Linked DNA regions of Homo sapiens: region 2 is linked to region 1. The links come from fine-mapping of genetic effects on gene expression. Tissue or cell type: whole blood. Region 1 holds a variant in brackets; the other region holds the start of a gene. All regions are shown on one strand. Distances are from middle to middle.

Region 1 (8,058 bases):
GGGCTCTAGGACTTGAGCTGGGCTCTGATCCTGAAGCCACACTCTGAGCAGCTGGGCTGCTCTGACTCGTTGTTCATAAGCAAGGAAAAGGAAATGAGGACCCGGAGTGTGGAGGGAGAGCTGAAGGGGAAGGAGAGCTGAGGGGAAAGGAGGCCCAGTTGTGAGCTCCCTTTGTGAACCCAGCAGCCAGCACCCTCCCTGAAGCTGCTTACGAGCCCCATGCAGCCGCCCCCTCTTCATTCAGAGCCAAGGGTGACCGCAGGGAGAGGACCTTTACCCCATTCTACAGAGAAGTAAAGGACGGTCAAGGGACAGGAACGTTCATACAAGGTTTATCTTCCCCTGTGGAGCCAGCCCTGGGTGGCAGCTACCTGAGGGGCAGTGGGTGGGGAAGTACTGCAGGGCCACCAGCCCCCAGCCAGCAGCTGCAGCACCACCTCCACAAGAGAAGCGAGATGCAGCCGCACTTCCTGTCCCCGCACTGCACTGGCATAGTTCTGAGCCACCAGCTTCCTTCTGTTTTCCTCTCAGAGGCAAAGCATGGGGGCACAGGAGCCGGAAGTGCCAGGGCAGCCTGCAGCCTGGGCCTGGGGAATGGAGGAGGCCCTGGGGCCACACAGGGGGCTGGTCCTCACTCTTCACGGCAGGGGTGGGAGACAGGTTCCTGTCCCTCAAGGAGGGTGTTCAGGCAGCCTTAACCTCCCCCGTCTCAAGTGATCCTCCCATCTCAGGCTCCTGAGTAGTTGGGACTACAGGTGTGTGCCACCACACCCGGTTAATTAGTTTATTTTTAGTAGACACACGGTTTCACCTGTGTTGGCCAGGCCGGTATTGAACTCCTGGCCTCAAGTGATCCACCCACCCCAGCTTCCTAAAATGCTGGGATGACAGGCATGAGCCACTGCGCCCACCTCTTTTTGGTTTTGAGATGGGGGTCTCACTATATTGCTCAGGCTGGTCTCAAACTTCTGGCTTCAACTAATCCTCCCATCTCAGCCTCCCAAGTAGATGGGACCACAGGCATTGGCTAATTTTTTTTCCTTTTATTCTTTAGGGGTAGAGTCTCTATGCTGCCAGGGCTTATCTCAAACCCCAGCTTCAGCCTCCCAAATAGCTGGGATTACAGACATTAGCCACTGCACCTGGCTGGTGTCTCCATTTTACAGATGAGGCTGTCACCCCCCAATATCACACAGCCAAGTGGCAGAGTTGTGTTCAAATGCTGGCAGTCAGGCCATGCTCTGTCTGAGTCCAGACTCTGCCACTTTCTAGCTGTGTGTTCTCGGGCAGGTTATTTACCAACTTTGAGTCCATTTTCTTATCCCTAAAAGAGGGCTGAGAAGCTCACCCCTACCTTTGAAGGTTGTTTGAGGATTAAGCAAGACCAGCATCTGAAGGGCCTGAAGCATCTAGGGCATCATCAGTGCACTTTATCTCTGGCCTCTAAGAAGTGCATCTAGAAGGGACCCACTGTCACAGCTTCCTGGTACCCTTGCCTTTGCCTGTCAGGTAGCACTTCGGTTTGGACCTCACTTTTTCAGGATTTGTTGGAAACAAGATCCCTTATCTTCTCTAGGTCAGATTTGGGGTGAACTTGGCTGACAGTATTCCAGGGCAGGCAGAGGTCAGGCTGGCTGGTGACCTGCTGCCTCCTTCCCATCGGCAGCTAGTTCTAGGGCCATCCACAGGGATCCCCAGCCCTCCATAGTACCAGTGAGCCTCACTGGCATGTGCCAGGGCCAAGAGGGCCTTCAGCGTCGCCTCCAGTCCAGCCCTGTCCTCGTATTCTTGGGGACACTGTGGCTCAGCCAGCACAGTGCCTAGCCCACAGTCACCCAGCAGGCGTCCCTCGAGTGGGCCAGTGGCAGGCACAGAGCTGCTCTCCCCTTGCCTGGATGCGTGAGGAAAGGAACCTCTTCTCCCTGCAGCCCAGCCCTGCAGGCTCTCTGCTGCCAGATGACGAGTGAAGATGAAAGTCCTGATGTCTATTGTCTGTGTGCACAGAGCTTTGGAGTGGCCTGGCCAGGAAGAGGGGAAGCGTGTGTGGGGTCAGCACAAGGGGTTGCCGGGATCTTGGTTACTGGTTCTGCTCTGCTGCTGGTTCCCTCTGAAAATGTGGGTTTCTCCCCTCCGTGCTGAGCCTCAGAAAGGGGTAGGGAGCCCCATGCCAGCACACATGGCCCCTCGGCTCTCTGGCCTCTGCAGGGTCAGCCCAGCTCCTTCACCTCTCTCCTGCTTTCCCCTCAGGCCTCAGTGACCCCACACCCCCTTCAGGCCCAAGCCTGGATGGTACCGGATGGAACAGCTTCCAGGTAGGAGGGGACCACAAACTAGTCTGGCCTGTCCCAGTCCCAGGGTCAGGGCAGCTGGGACAAGTGGCCTGGAGAAACTAAAAGGATGGATGGGCTCTACTCAAGAGCCCAGGGCCAGGGGGTGGCCCAGGGGCCTGGAGACACCCACCCAGGGTACAGGGCCTCCCCTTACCTCCAGCTGTATCTTCCCCAAGTCTCAGCCTTGGGGCTGCAGCCCAGCCTTTGGGATTGGGATTGAGATGGGCAATCCCTCTTCCTTTCCCTTGAGGGTGACAGAGGTCCCTGGATTGTAGAACCCCCAACCAGACCCAGCCACCCTGCATCATGGACATGGGTGGTCTGGGGTCCCCACCTCTGTGGCTGCTTTCCCAGATGTCATTTGCAAGGAGGACACTGAGCCTCAGGGCAGGATCAGGTGATGCTGACACCTCTCTAGACAGCCCCACCCCACCTGCATCCTTTTCCCCACAGTCGTCGGATGCCACTGAGCCCCCAGCCCCTGCTCTGGCCCAGGCCCCCAGTATGGAAAGCCGACCCCCAGCGCAGACATCCCTGCCAGCAAGCAGCGGTCTGGACGACCTAGACCTCCTGGGGAAGACCCTCCTGCAGCAGTCGCTGCCCCCGGAATCCCAGCAAGTGCGGTGGTGAGGGCCCACCATGGCTGGCATGGGGTGGGGAGCACTCCCTGTTCCCACAAACCAGCAACTTCTCCTGGGCTTGTCCAGGCCCAGCAGGGAGAGGCTCGTTGCTGTCTTGTTTTGTAAGCAGCAGATGCCAAGCAGTGCACCTGCCTCTGGAAACACAACAGTGCCCAAGGCAGACCTGGGCCCACTGGCCTGGCCTCCCCCCAGGTGTTCCCAGCTCCCTTGAGAAAGGTCCAGAGGGCCGGCAGAGGGGAGGACACTGGGCTGGAGTGAATAGGTGGGGTGCAGGGTGGAGGGAGAACACGAGCTGCTCCTTCTAAAGGTAAGACCCAAGGCCAGAGAGATAGCCACACGTGCCAGCCTTTCCTGTGCCCCTGATCTCTCCATCACCAAAGAATCACTTTTTCTTTTTTTGAGAGGGAGTCTCACCCTGTCACCCAGGCTGGAGTACAGTGGCATGATCTCGGCTCACTGCAACCTCCATCTCCCAAACTCAAGCGATTCTCCTACGTCAGGCTCCTGAGTAGCTGGGACCACAGGTGTGCGCTACCACGCCCAGCTAGTTTTTTGTATTTTTTATACAGACCGGGTTTCGCCATGTTGCCCAGGCTGGTCTCAAACTCCTGAGCTCAAGCGATCTGCCCGCCTCAGCCTCCCAAAGTGTTGGAATTACAGGGGTGAGCTACCACGCTGGCCAAGAATCACTTCTTAATGCACTGTCCCCCGATTAAGGGAGAAGCAGCAGCCAACCCCCCGGCTCACACTCCGGGACCTGCAGAATAAGAGCAGCAGCTGCAGCTCCCCCAGCTCCAGCGCCACCAGCCTTCTCCACACCGTGTCCCCAGAGCCCCCCAGGCCTCCGCAGCAGCCCGTACCAACCGAGCTCTCACTGGCCAGCATCACTGTGCCCCTGGAGTCCATCAAACCCAGTGAGTAGGGCTGGGGCAGGTGCAGGCTGGGTTGGGTCAGCTTGCTGCCCTGTCAGGAGCTCTGTCTGGGGAAGCTAGTGGGAAAGCAGGGCTCCCCTGGCTCTGCCACTGGCCAACCAGAGGGGAGCTCTGAACAAGGCCCTCCCCTTCCCAGGAGTCAGTTTCCTTATCTGCCCCAGAGCAATCAGAGGACTGCTGTACAAACTCCAGGCTTATATAAGCAAGAAGACCTCTAGGGAGTAGGCTCTGGGCCCCTTCCATCCCCAGGAAGGCAGGGCCCAGGACACAGAGAGGTTTGGGGTCTCCCCCAGATTACAGAACTGAACCATGATAAAGACCCAGATCCAAGGCTGGGTTTTTCCAGCCCAGGAGCAGTAAGGGGACCATGGCCCAGCCCCGGGCCCCAAGCAGACACATGAGGCCTGGTGGTCCTCAGCATTGCCCTCTATGAGCTCCCTGTGACCAAAGACACTACCCCCACAGTGTCTCCCAGCAGTGGGCAGAGCTGCCCCTCTCACCAGTAGGAGAACCCTGAGCTCAGAGAAGGGGAGTGACTGCCGCAAGGTCACACAGCGTGAGACTCACCCTCACCAAGTCCCTCACCCCAGCACTCCAGGCAGCAGCCACACAGCATCGGGGGAAGCTGGGCTGTGACTCGGCTCTGGGGTGGGTGTCCTGCCTCCACTATCAGACTGGGGGTTCACCTGCCCTCTCTGGGCACCGCTCTGTGCCCCTGCCTGCACTGCCACCCAGGGTCCAGGTAAGGCCCCAAAGGAGGACTTTGCTCTTGTTGCCAGTACAGCAGCCAGCTCCTGAGGCCAGCCGGGTGGGGGCTGGGGGCTGAGCGGATGTGCTGCAGCTCAGCTGTCCCATCGCCCTCCCACCTTCTCCCACAGGCAACATCCTGCC[C/T]GTGACTGTGTATGACCAGCACGGCTTCCGCATCCTCTTCCATTTTGCCCGGGACCCACTGCCAGGGCGCTCCGACGTGCTGGTGGTGGTGGTTTCCATGCTGAGCACCGCCCCCCAGCCCATCCGCAACATCGTGTTCCAGTCAGCTGTCCCCAAGGTGACAAGCCAGTCGGACAGGGCATGCCTCCCTCCTCTCAAGGCAGGGTGACATGGAGCTGGGTGGGGAGCCACCTGTCAGGGGGCAGGTCTCCCTCCCTTGCTGGGTGGTTGGTGTAGAAGGGACCAGAAGGACTGAGCCCCAGGATCCCCGGAGGGGAGCTGGCAGGCTGGGCCTGGTTCCTCAGAGCAGGACAAGCAGCCAGGGCTAGCTGTGCCCATCCTGCCATCTGCCCACAGGTTATGAAGGTGAAGCTGCAGCCACCCTCGGGCACGGAGCTGCCAGCTTTTAACCCCATCGTCCACCCCTCAGCAATCACCCAGGTCCTGCTGCTTGCCAACCCCCAGAAGGTAAGGGGCCCCCAGGCAGTGCTGCAGGGTGGGGACGGCCACTTCTCCTCCTCTGACCCCTCTGCCTTTGCCATCTCTTCCCCAGGAGAAGGTTCGCCTCCGCTACAAGCTCACCTTCACCATGGGTGACCAGACCTACAACGAGATGGGGGATGTGGACCAGTTCCCCCCACCTGAAACCTGGGGTAGCCTCTAGAACAGAGGGGCTGGGGAGAGGAAGGGGCAGAGGGACCGGTCACTGTCCAGCCTGGAGGGAGGCATTGGTGGCCAAGGACACCCTTTGTTGCCCATGGCCATTCACCCCCAGGCCTGGTGCTTCTCCCCACACCCCTGTAGGCCTCAAGTGACTCTTCCCCCTCCTGCTCCGGCCCCGCCCCTGCTGAGCCAAACCCAGTAGGAGGCTGGGCCTGGGTTTGTGCCGCTGGGGTCTCCATCACCGGGACCTGGAGAGGGAGGGGCTGTGTAGCCTTGGAAGAACTTGGGTCATGGGGAGGAAGCACAGCTGTTGGGGAAGGGCCAGGACCTCAGGCCCAGCCCCAACCCCAGCTGGGGTGGGGTCTTCCCCACCTGTCTCTTATGCCTTATGGGAAGGCCCAGCCATAACTCGGGGGCCATGCTGGAGCTGGGGACCAGCTTAGGCCTCCTCCATAGGAACCCAGTGACTGGGGGGTGACGCCTACACCCCCAGCTATTTGCACTCTGGTGTGTGGTTTGACTCTGCTTTTCTTCCGGATTGGCCCTGTGGTCACAGCCTCAGGGGGCCAGGCTGGGGGAACCTCACCTGGCCCGTACTCCTGGGGGTTTCCCTTTGCCATTGGGCCCCCTGAGGGACTGTGGGGGCTCAAGGGTAATGCCAGAGGCCCATGGCCCCAGCGAGGGGCTGTGGGGCACCTAGAGTTCTCGGTGTGTCTCCTTCATTCATTGGCCTCTGCTGGGGCCTCCTATGGGTGTCTTACGTCTGTCCATCCATCTGTCCGTGGTCAGAAGTGGGGTCAGTGTGTGAGTGAGAGCAGGAGTATTTATGAAAATAAAACGTCGTTTTTCCTGGACCAGCTGCTCTCGTGGCCCTTTGGAGGTTGAGGGAGATGGGAGGGGTTGAGTCCATGTTCCCTAGGGCTGCCCTGTAGACCTCTCCACTTCCGTCTTTGGAGGTCAGGCCGTGGGCCCCCTCCCCACCACCCCCCGGGCCCTGCACCGGAAAAGGCCCTGCAAAGGGGCCTGTGGCCAGTGCTGAGTCACCAGAGAGGGCGCTGGGCTGTGGCGGACCAGGACCGTCCCAGCTGGAAGTGGGCGACCGCCAGGGCCTGGCAGGAGCCCCAGCTGCTACAGACACCGAGGGGGAGGCCCCTGGCTGCTCACGACTTCCTCCTGCTGTGCTCAGCCCTCCACACAACCTCGATGCTGCAGCACCCCAGAGGGAAGTCCAAGCCCAGCTTCTCCCTCCCCCCAGACATCACTCCCTTGCCCAGCACCAATCGCAGTTTGTTTGGGAGCAGACCCAGGGACCCTGAGCTGGGCCCCTGCCACTCGCAGCGGCAGCTCTCCCCCACACAGTGCTATCAGTTTTCTCCAACCAGGAGGCTGGGGTCCAAGCTTGGGCGTGGCTTCGAGGCCACACAGCTGGGAGCGAGGGGGCGCTGGTCCAGGCAGATGGGCCCTGTTGTGTGGGAGGCCAGCCCTGCGTGTGGCTCTGCAGGAAAGTGTTCCCTGCTCAGATGAGTCCAGGGAGGCTGCGCACGGTTTCTCCTGAGTAGATGAGCCCATACAGACCCTGGGAAGTCCCTCATTTAAGAAGCCATTTTCACTTTGTCTAATCTAGTGTTTCCCAATCTGAACTTGGCCGCTGAACCCTTCTCCTTAGATATAGTTGTGACATGCTGGAGAATTGCCCAGCACACCCGCATCCCAGCGTGTGTGCTCTTTAACACTCATCAGCAAGCAAGGGGCCCCTCTCTGCTGGGCCCACACTGAAAGCGCAGGCTGAGAGCTCCTCCATGTCCGCCTTACTGCTGAGGGGACAAGAGGCATTAGCTGCACCCTGCGGGAGCCTCCTATCAGATCCCTACAGTGGGACTCCCACCCTGGCACAGCCCTCCAGACAGAGGCTGGCCCCTGGAGGCTTCCAGACACCCTGTCCCAGCCACGTGGCCTCGTTCCTGTTCCCCTTCCCTACCCTGCAGGACTCGCCTCCACACTTGTGATGTCTCCTGAAGATAACTCCGGTTGGAAGTTTCTTCTACCTGAAATGAAACCATAACCCCTGCAGCATCCACTTGGGGTGCCAGAGTCCCACCTCCAGCACAGTCTTCATTACTGGCCATGGCAGGGAGGAGTACAGGTTGGCATGGGGAACAGGTGGGACTGTGAGCTGGGAGTCTGGGGGCTGGTTCTGGCTGGGTCACTGGCTTGCTGTGTGATTTTGAGGAAGATGCTTTCCTTTCTGGAAAAGGGGAGAGGGACTCAATGAGCTATAAGGTCCCTCTGAGGAGTCCTTGGACAAAGGAGCCAGGCTGTCAGCTTTGGAGTGACCCAGGATATTCCGGGGACGGGAAGGTGGGGTCCCTTCAGCCTTTGGACCTTGTCCCTTGCCTTGTCCTTAACCCACCCATCCTGTCAGTCATGCCAGTGTTTCCTGAGCAGCCCCTGGGCCAGCCCCTGTCCTAAGAGTTCACAAGCTGGCAAGGACTTGGGAGCCAGTGTGGCACCCTGAGAGCAAAGACATAAGGTACCACAGAAGCCCTGCATCTGTCTGAGAGT
Region 2 (8,058 bases), 22 kb before region 1:
GCGCGATCTCAGCTCACTGCAACCTCCCAGGTTCAAGGAATTCTTGTGCCTCAGCTTCGCAAGTATCTGGGATTACAGGTGCATACCACCACACCTGGCTAATTTTTGTATTTTTAGTAGAGATGGGGTTTCACCATGTTGAGCAGGCTGGTCTCAAACTCCTGACCTCAAGTGATCTACCCGTCTTGGCCTCCCAAAATGCTGGGATTGTAGGCTTGAGCCACCCCGCCCAGCCTGCTTCTGTGCTTTCCATCCTTTGAAGGCAGGGACTTGCTCTGATGTGGGCTCTTGTGATGGAGACACGTGGGGGCCTTGGCCAACCACATCCTTGCTCAGAGTCTCAGATTTCTCATCTGTAAAACAGGAAGAATAGAATTCAACTCTGAGGTCTGTGGGAATATTAAAGGCGACAATGACAACCATGGTCCTCTGTGCCCCCCTCCCCTGAGGTTCCCATGCCCGGAAGGGACATGCAGGATCTGACTGGAGTCACAGGGGCTGAGGCTGGGGCCACGCCTCAGTTTGTTTCCTGAACCTTCTACAATCCTCCTCCAAGAAAGAATTGCATGTCCTCCCCCATATCTCTCCTCCAAGTTTGCAAGGATGCCCATCTCCCCAGCTCCTATTCCCTCGCCCCAGCCCTCCCTCACCAACGTTTCCAGTGTTCCAGGGGTTTTCTTAGGAAGGAGCTGAGGTGTTAAATCCTTAGAGGTCGGCATGGCTTAGGTGATTATAGCTGAGCTTTACCTGCCCTTCTCAGGGGTTCCTCAAGTCTCTCAAAGCAACACATTTGCTCATGGTGGGGAATGGGTGGGAACGGCTGCCACAGGCATTTCCTCCAAGTTTCCCGTGTTGGTCCTCCTTCCTTTCACCATCTTTAGGTTCCTCCTACCGTACCTCCTACCCTGATCCCCAGTTTGGGCCAGGCCCTTCACGCATAGACACAGCTCCTGAGTCTACCTTATCACGCCCTGCTCCCCAGAACTCAGAGGGACAGCCTAGAGCCTTTGTTACAAGCACAGCCTGGCTCGCCTCTCCAAACCCCCATACTCACTGTGCAATGTTGGGCATATTCATTCATTTATTTGATGCATATTTATTGAATACTTATTGTGTAACAGTTACTGTTTTAGGGCTTGGGGATATATTATTAGTGAAGTAACTAAATAAAATCCATTGCCGTGGTGGAGCTTACATTCTGGTGGGGGAGAGAGACACAAAACACAACAAAGAAATGAAATATGTAGTGGAGATAAGTGCTAAGGAGAAAAGTTCAGCAGAAAAGGTGGTAGGGAACATGTGGTAGGGGATTAATTTTGCAGACACACTTGTTCAAGATCATCCAGAAAGCAGTGAAGTCAGAATTTGCACCTAAATCAAATCTATTTTGTCTTTAAAAGTGACTCCTGACAGCACAGACATGTCCCTAAATGAATGCAGTAAATGCGATGTGAGTTTTATTTCAGTAATAATTCATCTCAGGCTGGGCGTGGTGGCTCACGCCTGTAATCCAAACACTTTGGGTGGTCAAGGCAGGTGGATCACCTGAGGTCAGGGGTTCGAGACCCGCCTGGCCAACATGGCGAAACCCTGTCTCTACTAAAAATACAAAAATTAGCCAGGCATGATGGCGCATGCCTGTAATCCCAGCAACTCAGGAGGCTGAGGCAGGGGAATCGCTTGAACCCAGGAAGCAGAGGTTGCAGTGAGCTGAGATCGTGCCACTGCACTCTAGCCTGGGCGACAGAGTAAAACTCTGTCTCAAAAATAAATATAATAGGCTGGGCGCAGTGGTTCATACCTGTAATCCCAGCACTTTGGGAGGCTCAGGCGGGTGGATTACTTGAGGTCCAGAGTTCGAGACCAGCCTGGCCAACATGGTGAAACCCCGTCTCTACTAAAAATATGAAAAAATTAGCCGGGCGTGGTGGCAGGCGCCGGTAATCCCAGCTACTCGGGAGGGTGAGGGAGGAAAATCACTTGAACCCGGGAGGCAGAGGTTGTGGTGAGCTGAGATCGCGTCACTGCACTCCGGCCTGGGCGACAGAGAGAGACTCCGTCTCAAAAATAAAATAAAATAAAAAAATATATATAATTCATTTCAGTAGTAAAAGACATAAACAAAAAGCTATAAGTATACACTACGTTACAGCTTTTGTTGAGGAATGCAATAAACATACATATCACTTCCCTGTATAATCTCAATGGCCTTTGGGAGAGAATTTAGAAAAGCATCCCAGTCGCTGAATGGTTGAGTTTAGGGGAAAAACTGACCCAGCACAGCCCCCTCATCTCCTGGATGAGGTTACTGCGGTTCCGCAAGGTGAATCGAGGTCAGTCGCCAAGGCAGAACCGGATTCGCCAGATTCCCTAGTCTCAGTGGAGCTTTAACCCTCCCAGGCACAGGACCGCTGGAGAGGTCGCCACGGGCCGGTTTCCCAGCCGGCCGCGAGGGGGCGACAGAGTGCAATGGACCCAGGTGAGTCGGGGACCAGGCGCCGCCAGGTCGTGACGCCACAAGGTGAGGGAGGTCTTTGATGGAGGGAGATACAGGAGAAAAGGCGCCGAGCTTAGGAAGTCTGTTCGTACTGTCCTCCCCGATTCCAGTCTGGCTCCCACTGCTATCTTCCTCCCACTGCTGGACCCTTCTAAAACAAAAGCCTGACTTTGCTACCATCCGTAAAACTGTAACGACACCTCCAACGTTGCTTACAGGGAAAAAAAAAAAAAAGGGCAGCAAAACATGGGACCTGGGTGATCTTGCCCCAGCCTAATTCCAAGATATCTCCTGCAAATAGATATCTATTTGCAGATATCTGGGAGCCGTATTGAAATACTTCCAACTCCCTGGACTCATCCTACTTTTTTTTTTTTTTTTTTTTTTGAGACTGAGTCTCGCTATGCCGCCCAGGCTGGAGTGCAGTGACGCAATCTCGGCTCACTGCAACCTTCACCTCCCGGGTTCAAGCGATTCTTCTGCCTCAGCCTTCTAAGTAGCTGGCACTAAAGGCGCGCCCAGATAATTTTTTTTTTTTTTTTTTTTTAGTAGAGACGGGGTTTCACCGTGTTAGGATGGTTTCGATCTCCTGACCTCGTGATCCGCCCTCCTCGGCCTTCATCCTACTTTTTCTCCCTGAATATCTTTTCGCACCAGCTCTACGTGGAGAAATCCGACTGTCTTTGAGCGAAGTACAGTATCACTTTCTCTTGAAACCTCCCCTGACACGACCCCTCCCCTGACACGACCCCTCCCCTGACAACACCCCCACCCACCCCACCCCAGTTTGGGGGAGGAGCCCCCTCCTTTGTTCCCACTACCCCGTGGGCTTCCCCTATCACACTGTAATAAATATCTGGCCTTGTCTATCTCCTTCTGTGCCCATCACAGAGCAAAGCAAATACAAAGAGTTCATTAAACGTTGGCTGGATGAATGGAGGAGACGGCACAGGGTTCAAGCTCTGCTACTTGTGCGGCCTCAGGCCGACTAATTATCTGGTGGGTTTGTTGTAAGGAGTCAGAACTAAATGGATTAATTACAAATAGTGCTTAGGACAATGCCCAGAATACTGTAAGCACTCAAGAAACTGATTTATTTTCGTCATTTTCACAGCGGCCAAGGTACATGAGGATGTAGCTTATCGCCCTTTTAAGGGACTCTCCCACGTTCGACTCTAAGCGGAAGTACCCGCTCAGGGCTCCGGAAGTGGCCTCAGAGCCCCTCAGCAACATGCCCGCAGAGAATTCTTCCGGAGGCGGTCACAGACATCTCCGTGACGCAGAACGAGTTAGAGCGTCCCTTGGGGTTTCCATGGTGCTGCCCTTAGCCTGCAGTATCTCCACTTCCTCTCCCGCCTGAGCGCCGGGAACGGAAAAGCAGGCGGCCGGTCCCAGCTGCGACGTAGACGCCGCGTGGGGGTGGGGTTGGGCGAGTAGGTGACGCTCTAGGCGAGCTCGTTGGCCTCTCTATGGTGCCGAGCGCGCCCGTTCGGACGTTGCCCCTTTAATCGGCAGAGGGCGGTGCCCAGGAGGTCCCGCGAGAGCTGCGGGGGGCGGGGGGGCGGTGCCGAGGCTGGGGGCCGGTGGCGGATGGAGCCCGCGATGGAGCCGGAGACTCTGGAGGCGCGAATCAGTGAGTGTCCGGGAGGGGCGCGGGCCGGACCGGAACCGGAACCGGGGGCACGAGGCGGGCCCCTTCCCGGCGGGGGCGGGGTACGGGTCGCCCCCTCCTCACGCCCCGCCCCCGGCCCGGGAGGGGCGGTGTCCTCAGTCGGCCCCTCAGACCCTGGAGCGATGGAGGACCCCGGCCCCGGCGCGGTCCAGCGGTGGGAGCGGGCGCCGCCCACCTGTCGGATCCCTGGGCCATGACCCCTGGGACGGCGAGTGAGCTGCGCCGGGAACCCCCGGGACGGAGAGAGCAGCCTCCAACCCCCAAGGCTCACATTGCTTCACGGAGTAGCGGCCCGGGGAAGGAGCACGCGAGCGGTTCCCCGGGGTTGCATCTCACACCCGGGAGGGAGGGACCCTACTATTTTCAGGCCCCGAATCCTCCACTCTCTGGCCCTGCATGGCGTTCCTGGAGCCCGCAAGTAGTCACATTTGCTCATTACCCCGTCCTGGAAGGGAGGACCCACTGCCCCATTTGATTCCTCCCGCCGCTCCTAGTCTCTAGCCACATAGTGAGAAACCCCCGCACCCTACAGGCTTGGGAGAGTCTTAGACTCCAGAAGTATTAATAATTCCAAGCTCCCTGTCACTCCCTTCAGCCTAACCCCTCAGTCTCCAAGATGCCTTTCCCAGCTCTTGCTGAACTTCCTTCAAAGGCTTCTACACCCCTTTTTTTCTTGTTTCTCCTCAGACGTAGCTTCCTATTGCTTAGGCTTCCTAGCCCGCAAACCCTCCACCTGAGCTCCTTAACCCACAGCCCTGATGATCCCCTGCTCTCACAGCCCCGCTCCTGGACTCTGCCTCTGAAAGCCGTGGCTGGCTTCTCCCTGGTCTAGTGAGGGTTCTCTCCCAAGGCTTTAACTGCTGTTGGGACCCCGTCGTTGCCAGGGCCTCAGGGAACCCTCTTGGACCCGGGCACACCGGCAACTGTCTAGCGTGGTTTGGGGTCATGGCCGGCCCCTTTTAAGCCAGGCTTGAGCAGAGTTGAACCATGAGGTTGGCCCCAGAACCAAACCTCTAGGGATGTTTCAGAGTCATCCTAGCCACCAGAGGGGCAGGGGGTGGAAAAGGGGCACTCAGCAGCCCTTGACCGTTGTGAACGCCGGAAGTGTCCGCCTGGGTCTCAGCAGCAACTGGGCTGGGGGGATGGGTGGGCCCCTGGCTAACTGATCTCAGACACAGGTCTTGAGCTGTGGGTCATACAAAACATTCTCAGGTTTAGAAACAGTGGGGGTTTTCTGAGAGTCCAGAGAGTCTAAAACCAGGCAGAAGTTAGAGATACCTGGGTTTGGCTGGGCCCTGACACACTGGGGCTGGGATTTTCTCCTTTCCTTCCCCCTTTGTGTCCTAGCAGAATTGTAAGATCTTTCCTCTTCCCTTGTGGAGGCTGGAGGTAAAGGATAGCTTCTTCTTTTTTTTTTTGAGACGGGTTTTCACTCTTGTCACCCAGGCTGGAGTGCAGTGGCACAATCTCAGCTCTCTGCAACCTCCACCTCCCGGGTTCAAGTGATTCTCCTGTCTCAGCCTCCCGAGTAGCTGGAATTACAGGTGCGCCACCACGCCCAGCTATTTTTGTATTTTTAGTACAGGTGGGCTTTCACCATGTTGGCCAGGCTGATCTCGAACTCCTGACCTCAGGTGATCCGCCTATATAGGCCTCTCAAAGTGTTGGGATTACAGGCGTTAGCCACTCATCCGCCCACGTCGGCCTCTCAAAGTGTTGGGATTACAGGCGTGAGCCACCGCGCCCGGCCTAGTGAGGTAAATGATGTTATTGTCAGCACTATAGAGTGGCAGGGTGGAGTCTTACCCTGTTGTGAAACACCTCCCTCCCTCTCTAGGTGTTCTCCCCAACTGCCTGCTAGGGAGGGTACTCCCCTCAGGTAGAATTAAGAGGGCTGAGGGTCAGGGGCCATGGGCCAAGGAGGTCAGTCAGATCTCCTTGGATCTGGAGGCCCTGGCTTTCAGCCAGAGGCAGGGGGAGAAAGATGATGTCTCATGATGCCAGCGCTTCCTCTTCACTGGCGTCTGACCCAGGAGCAGTCCAGAATCAGCTTCTCTGACCTCACTCCAACTCACGTGTCTTTGACACTTTAAGGGACTTCCTGTTTTAGGGTCTTCTGGCTGGGTGTCATTGAATGGGCAGTGATTCTCTAACTTTAGACTGATGTTCCCCAGCCTTTGTTTGGGGACTCGGAGGCAGAGTAGACAGTTACCCTTACCCCTGGGTTGGGGAGGGTCATATTCCTGGTATCCCCAGGAGGTCAACAGGGGCTTCATTTTTCTGAGGGACTAGAGGGTCTTGTGGAGCTCCTGGGACAGAGATCTAGATCCAGAGAGAACATTCGTCCTTCCGATCTCAGCTCAGCTCTGAGAGCCCTCCCAGAGAGCAGCTCCCGAGGGCTCCAGAGCCCTCCGAAAGCCCTCCCAGAGAGCAGCCCCCACCTCCCAGGCTGTCTGCACTTCTCCTTGCTATGCTTTGCTCTGTAACATTTTGCAACAGTCTGCAGTACACGGGGTTTGTTAATCTGAGTATTCATTGTTTCTCTTGCTGGGCAGTGAACTTGAGGAGGGCAGGGATTTTGTCTGTTCACTGCTGGAGCCCCAGCACCCAGAATACTTAAATCTGAGTTGGATGAATGGCGGCCAGCCACTGGGATTCCAGGGCTTTGGGCCCCCTGCCATAACATATGGCCCAGGGCAGGCGCCACATGCTGGGTCAGTCCCCAGCCTCCTGTCCACAGATCCTTCTCTGTTCTACCTCCTGGGCTGTGTCCTTCCACACCCTCAGCTCGGTGCTCAGGCGTGGGCAGAACTGGCTGGGAAGGGGTGGTCCTTAGAGGTGGGCTGTGGAGAAATGAAGATCGAGCTCTGGCTGCCGCCATGGCCTTCCCATGCAAAAAGTATTTTGTCATCCAAAATCAATATTTTGGTCAGGCACAGTGGCTCATGCCTGTAATCCCAGCACTTTGGGTGGCCGAGGTGGGTGGATCATTTGAGGTCAGGAGTTTGAGACCAGCCTGACCAACATGGTGAAATTCCATCTCTACCAAAAATACAAAAAAATTAGCTGGGCATGGTGGTGGACGCCTGTGATCCCAGCTACTCTCAGGAGGCTGAAGCAGGAGAATCGTTTGAACCCAGGAAGCTGAGATTGCAGTGAGCCGAGATCTCGCCACTGCACTCCAGCCTGGGCAACAAAGCAAGACTCTTTCTCAAAAAAAAATAAAAATAAAAAAATACAGGCCGGACGCAGTGGCTCACACCTGTAATTCCAGTACTTTGGGAGGCCGAGGCAGGTGGATCACGAGGTTAGGAGATCAAGACCATCCTGGCTAACACAGTGAAACCCCGTCTCTACTAAAAATACAAAAAAAAAAAAAATTAGCCGGGCGTGGTGGCGGGCACCTGTAGTCCCAGCTACTCGGGAGGCTGAGGCAGGAGAATGGCGTGAACCTGGGAGGCAGAGTTTGCAGTCAGCCGAGATCACACCACTGCACTCCAGCCTGGGCGATAGAGCGAGACTCCGTCTCAAAAAAAAAAAAAAATACAGCCGGGCACGGTGGCTCACACCTGTAATCCCAGCACTTTGGGAGGCCAAGGTGGGCGGATCACAAGGTCAGGAGATTGAGACCATCCTGGCTAACATGGTGAAACCCTGTCTCTACTAAAAATACAAAAAAAAATTAGCCGGGCGTGGTGGCGGGTGCCTGTAGTCCCAGCTACTCGGGAGGCTGAGGAAGGAGAATGGCATGAACCTGGGAGGCGGAGCTTGCAGTGAGCCGAGATCGTGCCACTGCACTCCAGCCTGGGCAACAGCGTGAGACTCGTCTCAAAAAAAAAAAAAAATCCATATTTCATTCCAGCTTTACAAGATGGGGAAATGGAGGTTC

Evidence for each region. PIP is the estimated chance that this variant, and not a neighbour inherited with it, causes the effect.
Region 2: it holds the start of GGA1, and the variant in region 1 is fine-mapped to the expression of GGA1 in whole blood (TOPMed, PIP 0.91).

What each region holds. Positions count from the first base shown.
Region 1 is chr22:37,627,215-37,635,272 of GRCh38, forward strand. GGA1 (golgi associated, gamma adaptin ear containing, ARF binding protein 1) reads left to right here. Exons shown (of 17, transcript NM_013365.5): 12 at 2,248-2,312; 13 at 2,784-2,956; 14 at 3,689-3,885; 15 at 4,782-4,951; 16 at 5,191-5,301; 17 at 5,387-6,350. The coding sequence ends at 5,497. Among named protein-coding and RNA genes, the nearest start is that of SH3BP1, 8.4 kb to the right of the region's middle. RefSeq lists enhancers at 5,524-5,583, 5,764-5,823, 6,090-6,963, 6,184-6,343, 7,124-7,213. The variant C/T (reference allele first, on the strand shown) is at 4,795.
Region 2 is chr22:37,604,774-37,612,831 of GRCh38, forward strand. It overlaps GGA1 (golgi associated, gamma adaptin ear containing, ARF binding protein 1), which reads left to right and starts at 4,061. Exons shown (of 17, transcript NM_013365.5): 1 at 4,061-4,130. The coding sequence starts at 4,088. RefSeq lists a cis regulatory region at 2,237-2,696, enhancers at 3,441-3,520, 3,671-3,840, 4,445-5,066, 4,781-4,890 and a silencer at 4,001-4,450.